Linked DNA regions of Homo sapiens. The protein of the gene in region 2 interacts with the protein of the main gene of each other region in a biochemical or structural test. Each region holds a gene or a part of one and is shown on either strand. Other genes may lie near its edges.

Region 1 (2,533 bases), on a different chromosome or scaffold from region 2:
GAAACTGAAGCACATAGGGATAAAATAACTTCACATACATAAATAAACCAAAGCATTCTAATAATTTCATACTATAGCTGACTGACCAAAACAGCAATCACTTAACTTTGTGGTTTGGATATTTCCTTGTAAAATATCTTATTATAAGTTATTTCAATAAATCATCCATACAGTATTTCCAAAATATAAACTGTATCAATAGTGTTAGACAATATTAGGTTACCTCTGCTTCATAATATATATAACTGGTATCTGAAAACCACACAAGGATCCATTTCAATACCCTTATGGATGTCAGATATCCAGACCAGACACTGGGCAAAATATCAAAAGTGAGGAAAAGGAAATAAGGAAATGGGCATTCATCTGGCAAGCTATGAAGTATCTTCCCTTTCTATCGAAGGCTTTCTAAAACTCAGATGCAATGAGACAAATTTAAAAACTGTAGATTGAAGGCTTTTAGAGGTAGTCACTACAATCAGTTCATCTGAGAAATTGCATCATTATCACAAGCATTTATTGAGTACCCATAGAACTCATGGTACCTTCACGGTGTTTACAGAACTTTGCTTATATGCCGACCTTGCCCTTAAGGAGCTTACAATCTAGTGGAAAGAAAGACGGAGAAACTCAGATGTGATAGAGCAATGAGTGAACAGATACTATAGACTGAAAAATAACCATAAATGTAAAACACATACTGAAAAATGAGGGTTAATGGGGATGGCAAGGATGATAGGTAGGCCTGGATATACTCCTGACTTCTTGAAGGAGTAAATATCTAGAATATTCAAGGACGTAAAGTGCGGTTGAGAAAGCCAGGATGCAAACAAACATTTCCTATCTGCTGTGTATTTTCTTGCTCCCTGCAGCTGAGAATTGCAAAAAGAAAACAGGGATAGAGATAATGGGTAAAAACTTTTTAGTATTCTTTTAGTACTTCTGTTTCTGAATTAGACCGAACAGTCACCATGTAGGTAACTTAGCTATCCTAGATCATCCTAAACTGGTTAAAAGGAAGATTTTAAAAACTAGCTTGTCTATATGAGTTCTATAAACATATGTAATTTTACCTTAACTAAAAGGTTAGGATGACTAGGACTGCCACTATGCTAAAGACCACTCAACTGAATATAATACTGACATGGCAGAAGTGCGAGTTTTATCAGTGATACACATTGTGTACTGCATTGGGGGCTTACTAGATGTGTGGCGGAATATACCCATTTATGAAGGCAGCACATCGGCAAGTAAAAATGTAAGTGAAGGTAGGAAATACCTAGAATACATGATGTTTTATGCAGCTGAACAGGACAACCCTGAAAAGACAAGAATTATGGTAATACCAAAGTGACTAAGGTTGTCTTGATTCCCCGCCCCCACCACAATTATGAATCAAAAGATGGAGTCTTTTTTTTTTTTTTTTTAAGGTAAATACCCTCTTTAGCTGAGTCCAAGACTTTGGATATTAGATTACTGTACCTAAAAAGAGTAAAATGGTGGCCAGGCGGTGGCTCACGCCTGCAATCCCAGCACTTTGGGAGGCCAAGGAGGGTGGATCATCTGAGGTCAGGAGTTCGAGACCAGCCTGGCCAACGTGGTGAAACCCCATCTCTACTAAAAATACAAAAATTAGCCGGGCGTGGTGGTGCACGCTTGTGGTCCCAGCTACTCAGGAGGCTGAGGCAGGAGAATCGCTTGAACCTAGGAGGTGGAGGTTGCAGTGAGCCAAGATGGCACCACTGCATTCCTGCCTGGGCAACAAGAAAGAGTAAAATGGTAACTATGCACAAAGGATGGGGGAAAGGTGGCTCACAGGGCTTAAACATCAGAGGAATGGAGAGGACAGGACAGTGAGGGAATTATCTGGAAGGTAGGTAACTGGATTGAGAACCACAAAAAGCATGTAGATTTAAGCAGATTACGAGTCATTTTAAACAGCTGTTTCAAAGTAAGAGTAAAAACAGGCTGGAGAAAATCTTGGGTAATATTAGAGTAACATAGTCTAGGATAGGAATCCATCAGTTATGGAGATCAGAGGTAAGATATAGTCAGGGAAATTAGGATTCATGCTTGAAGAGTAATAGAAAAACCTAAGTGAAACAGGTTATTGGAATTTTCTTTATGAAGAATAAAAGTGGAAGAACTGATAGTCTGGAAAGGTGAAGTAATCTGGAGTAGGCAGCTACAAAAGGTATAAAATTTGTGGAGAAGGCAAAAATTGGGGCAGAAAATATAAATAACAAGGGAGTACTGCAGTCCTCTGGTGGGAGGTAGATCATAAAGAATCTGTAGAACCATTTACTTTTCCTCACAGTCAACTGCTCTTACACCCAGAGCAGTAGCTGTCAAGTCAATTTTATTGAAAATACACTGGACTTGGACATCCTGAGTCAAACTGCCATCACCTAAAGGGCCTGGATTTAAAAGGAATTTTCAAGATTATTGTTAACTTCTGGGTTAAGTGTTTAGGGAAAAAAATGTTAAATCTACTTTTCTTATACATGATTGGTGTGCTTAGTTTTTTATCAAT
Region 2 (4,036 bases):
GAAAATTTATCCATAATGAGGAAAGGAATAAAAGATATAGCTTTATCTCTTGTAATTGTCTAATTGCACTAAAACATCGTGGGCCCTGAATTTTACCGCAGTCATTCACCACATAACGACATTTTGGTCAGTGATGAACTACATCTACGACAGTGGTCCCATAAGAATATAATTGAGCTGAAAAACTTGCTACCTTATGACATCATAGCGCAACATATGATTCATGTTTGTAGTGATACTAATGTAAACACACCTGTGCTGCCAGTCATAGAAGTATAGCACATACAGTTATTTACAGCGTATAATACCGTCGTGCATTGCTTAATGATGGGATGCATTCTGAGAAATGCCCTGTTAGGTGATGTCATTGTTGTACAAACATCATAAAGGGTACTTACACAGACCTAGGTGGTATAGCCTCCTATTACCCCTACGCTATATGGTATGGCCTGTTGCTCCTAGGCTACAAACTTGTATGGCATGTTACTATAAGAGAATACTATATACTGAATACTATAAGAGTGATTAACACAATGGTAAGTATTTGTGTTTCTAAACATAGTGAAGCATAGAAAAGGTACAGTAAAAATGCAATATAAAAGAAAAATTGGTACACCTATATTGGGCACTTGCGGGACTGGAAGTTGCTCTGAGTGGTGACTGAATATGAAGGGACATTATTGTACATCACTGTAGACTTTATAAACACACTTAGGCTACATAAAAAGTAAAACTTTAAAATTCTTAACTTCTGAATCTTTTGTAATAACACTTAGCTTAAAACACAAACACGGCAACCTGCCCGGGTCCCCTTCCACACTGCGGAAGCTTTGTCCTTTCACTCTTCATAATGAATCTTGCTACCGCTCCAAAAAAAAAAAAAAAAAAAATTGTACAGCTGTATAAAAATATTTTGTCTTCATATGCTTACAGGCTTTTTCCTAGTCTTAAACTTTTTTTTTTTTTTTAACTTTTTAAACTGTTGTTAAAAACTAAGACACAGACATAATTAGCCTAGGCCTACACAGGGTCAAGATCAATGGTATTACCATTGCCACCTTCACAGCTTGTCTCACTGGAAGGTTTTCAGGAGCAGTAACACGCATGGAGCCATCATTTCCTGTGATGGCAGTGTCGTCTTCTAGATACCTCCTGAAGGATCTGGCTGAGGCTGTTTTAGAGTTAACTTTTTTTTAAAAAATATAGAAGTAAGTGGTACACTCAAATAATGATTAAAAACTCATTACCGGCCGGGCGCTGGGCTCATGCCTATAATCCCAGCACTTTGGGAGGCCGAGGCAGGTGGATCGCCTGAGGTCAGGAGTTCGAGACCAGCCTGGCCAACATGGTGAAACCCCCTCTCTACTAAAAATACGAAAATTCGCCAGGTGTGGTGGCAGATGCCTGTAATCCCAGCTACTGGAGGTTGGAAGTGGGAGCGGGGAAGGCAGGAGAATCGCTTGAACCTGGGAGGTGGAGGTTGCAGTGAGCTGAGATCGTGCCATCGCACTCCAGCCTGGGGGACAAAAGCAAGACTTCATCTCAAAAAAAAAAAAAAAACCTCATTACCAAAATCCTTGCATACTTAAGTCCCACAGTTGGCCCTGGAGAACCTGCATATACCAAAAGCTAGCCCTCTGTATAAGAGGGTTTGAGCATCCCAAGAATACTGTATCTTTGATCTACATTTGTTTGGAAAAAATCCACATATAAGCAGTTCAAACCTATGTTGTTGAAGAGTCAACTGTATAGTAAATACTAGGTGACAGAAATTTTTCAGCCCCGTTATAATCTTGGGGGAACATAGTCCCATATGCAGTCTGTACTAGACAGAAAACATCAGCACATGACTTCCTGATAATGACAGTTAAAAACCGTATTGCCAGTTTATGTATTTACTATATATACTTTTTATTTTAGAGTGTACTCCTACTTTTTAAAACAGCTTTTCATGGTAACTGGTAGCAGCCTCATACAGCTTGTGTTCACTGTGTCTCTTGATTGCATCATTCTTGTGCATGGTTTAATCTCATGGTATTTTGTTCATCATGGCCCCTAAGCATACAAAATCCATAATGTTGCCAGTAAGGGGCCATGTTGAGTGATTGACCTGGAAACAGAAGTGATTAAGGACTACGAAGGTGGAGAATCAGTGATGGTTATTTCTTGCCAGTCAGGCTTGTCCCATTTTACCATAGCTATGATCTTGAAGAACAAGAACAAAGTGACAGAAGCTGTTAAAGCATCTGCTTCATTGAAGGCAATGAGACTAACAAAAATTCAAGAAGGGCCTTTATCAGACACACACAAGCTTCTGATGACCTGGATTGAAGAGCAGACACAGGTGCACACGGTGCTGTGTACCTCTCAGCACCATGATGATCCCAAAGCAAAAAGTGTGTTTGAGGTGTTGAAAGAAAAGGCTGGACCTGGCTGTGATGTTGAATTGACTGCTAGTTCTGGGTGGTGTAAACAATTCAAGAATCGTTATTCATTACATAATGGGAAAGTGGTGAGTTTGTGAGTGCTGATGTAAAGGCAGCGGAAGAATTTTGGGAAACTCTAGATAAGCTGAGTCTGGAGGAAAATCACTTGCCAGAACAAATTTTCAATATGGATGAAACCTTTCTATTCTGGAAACAGATGCCTGAAAGGACTTTGATCCATGAGGTAGACCAAAGCAATGCCAGGCTTCAAGTCTTTTAAGGACTGGATGACAGTCTTGCTTGGGGGCAATGTTGCAGGCCACAAATTGAAACCCTTTGTGATTTGGCATGTTGAGAACCCTAGGGGCTTCAAGCATATCAATACACACACACTTGGCCAGTGCACTGCAGGAGATATAAGAAGTCGTGGGTGACCCTGCTCCTCTTTCAAGATGCCCTCCTGAATAGATATGCCTGCGAAGTGGAGAAGTAGTATTGAGAGAATAACATACCCTTCAAGCTTTTGCTTATTGTCGCTGATAAGCAAATGCCTCCTTTAAGTGGTGTTTTTCATCCCAGTATCAAACACCACCTCTTTGATCCAACTGATGGAGTTACAGCAGCTTTTAAGGCGTACTATCTGAGAAAGGCCTTTGTCCTGTCGTCGCAGCTTAGGGAGACACTGAGAAGATTCTGATACAATTCTGGAAGGATTGCAATATCTGTGACTGCATTAAGAATCTTGCTTGGGCTTGGGTTGATGTCATCAAGGAGTGTATGAATGGCATCTGGAAGAATACACTCAAGAGGTTTGTCCATGACTTAAAAGGATTTGCATAAATCACAAAGTCTGTGATTGAGATGGCAAACAACTTTAACCGGGGTGTGGATGAGGACAACAGGAGCTCCTAGAGGTGATTCCTGAGGAATTGACTGGTGAGGAGCTGTGGGAACTAGAACAAGTTCCCGCATAGGTGAAGAGGAAAGAGAAAAGGAAACTGCAGGAAAAGCAAAAGAAGAACCCTCAAGAAAATTCAGTGAAGGATTTAGCAGTGCAGACCTCAGCAAGCTCCTTAAGTCTGAAAACACGTGGCCGGGCTTGGTGGCTCACGCCTGTAATCCCAGCATTTTGGGAGGCCGAGGCTGGTGGATCATCTGAGGTCAGGAGTTCAAGACCAGCCTGGCCGACATGGTGAAACCCCGTCTCTACTAAAAATACAAAAAAATTAGCCGGGCGTGGTGGTGGGGCGCCTGTAATCCCAGCCACGAGGCTGAGGCAGGAGAATCGCTTGAACCCGGGAAGTGCAGGTTGCAGTGAGCCGAGATTGTGCCATTGCACTCCAGCTTGGGTGACAAGAGCAAAAAAACTGCATCTCAAACAACAACAAAAAAGTTTGAAAACATGGATCTCAATACCAAAAGGTTTTTATTAATAGAGAAGAATATTCATGGTTCATTATCTGCTTACAATCAAATCTATGATGAAAAAAGGAAACAAAGCACCGTGGGCTTATTCTTGGTAAGTGTGAGACCTCCTCAAGAAAAGCCTAAGGCAGGTCCTTCTGCAGTTATCCAGAAGAAGGCATTGTTACCATGGGAGATGGCAGTTC

Evidence for each region.
Region 1: the proteins of ADNP (region 2) and KPNA4 interact in a test that uses a peptide from one of them, tested with the Homo sapiens proteins (one study listed by BioGRID).

What each region holds. Positions count from the first base shown.
Region 1 is NC_000003.12:160,494,507-160,497,039, forward strand, and holds the end of KPNA4 (importin subunit alpha-3), read right to left. Parts: 3' UTR 501-2,533; downstream 1-500. UniProt on the Homo sapiens protein: Functions in nuclear protein import as an adapter protein for nuclear receptor KPNB1. Binds specifically and directly to substrates containing either a simple or bipartite NLS motif.
Region 2 is NC_000020.11:50,896,722-50,900,757, reverse strand, and holds part of ADNP (activity-dependent neuroprotector homeobox protein), read left to right. Parts: intron 1-4,036.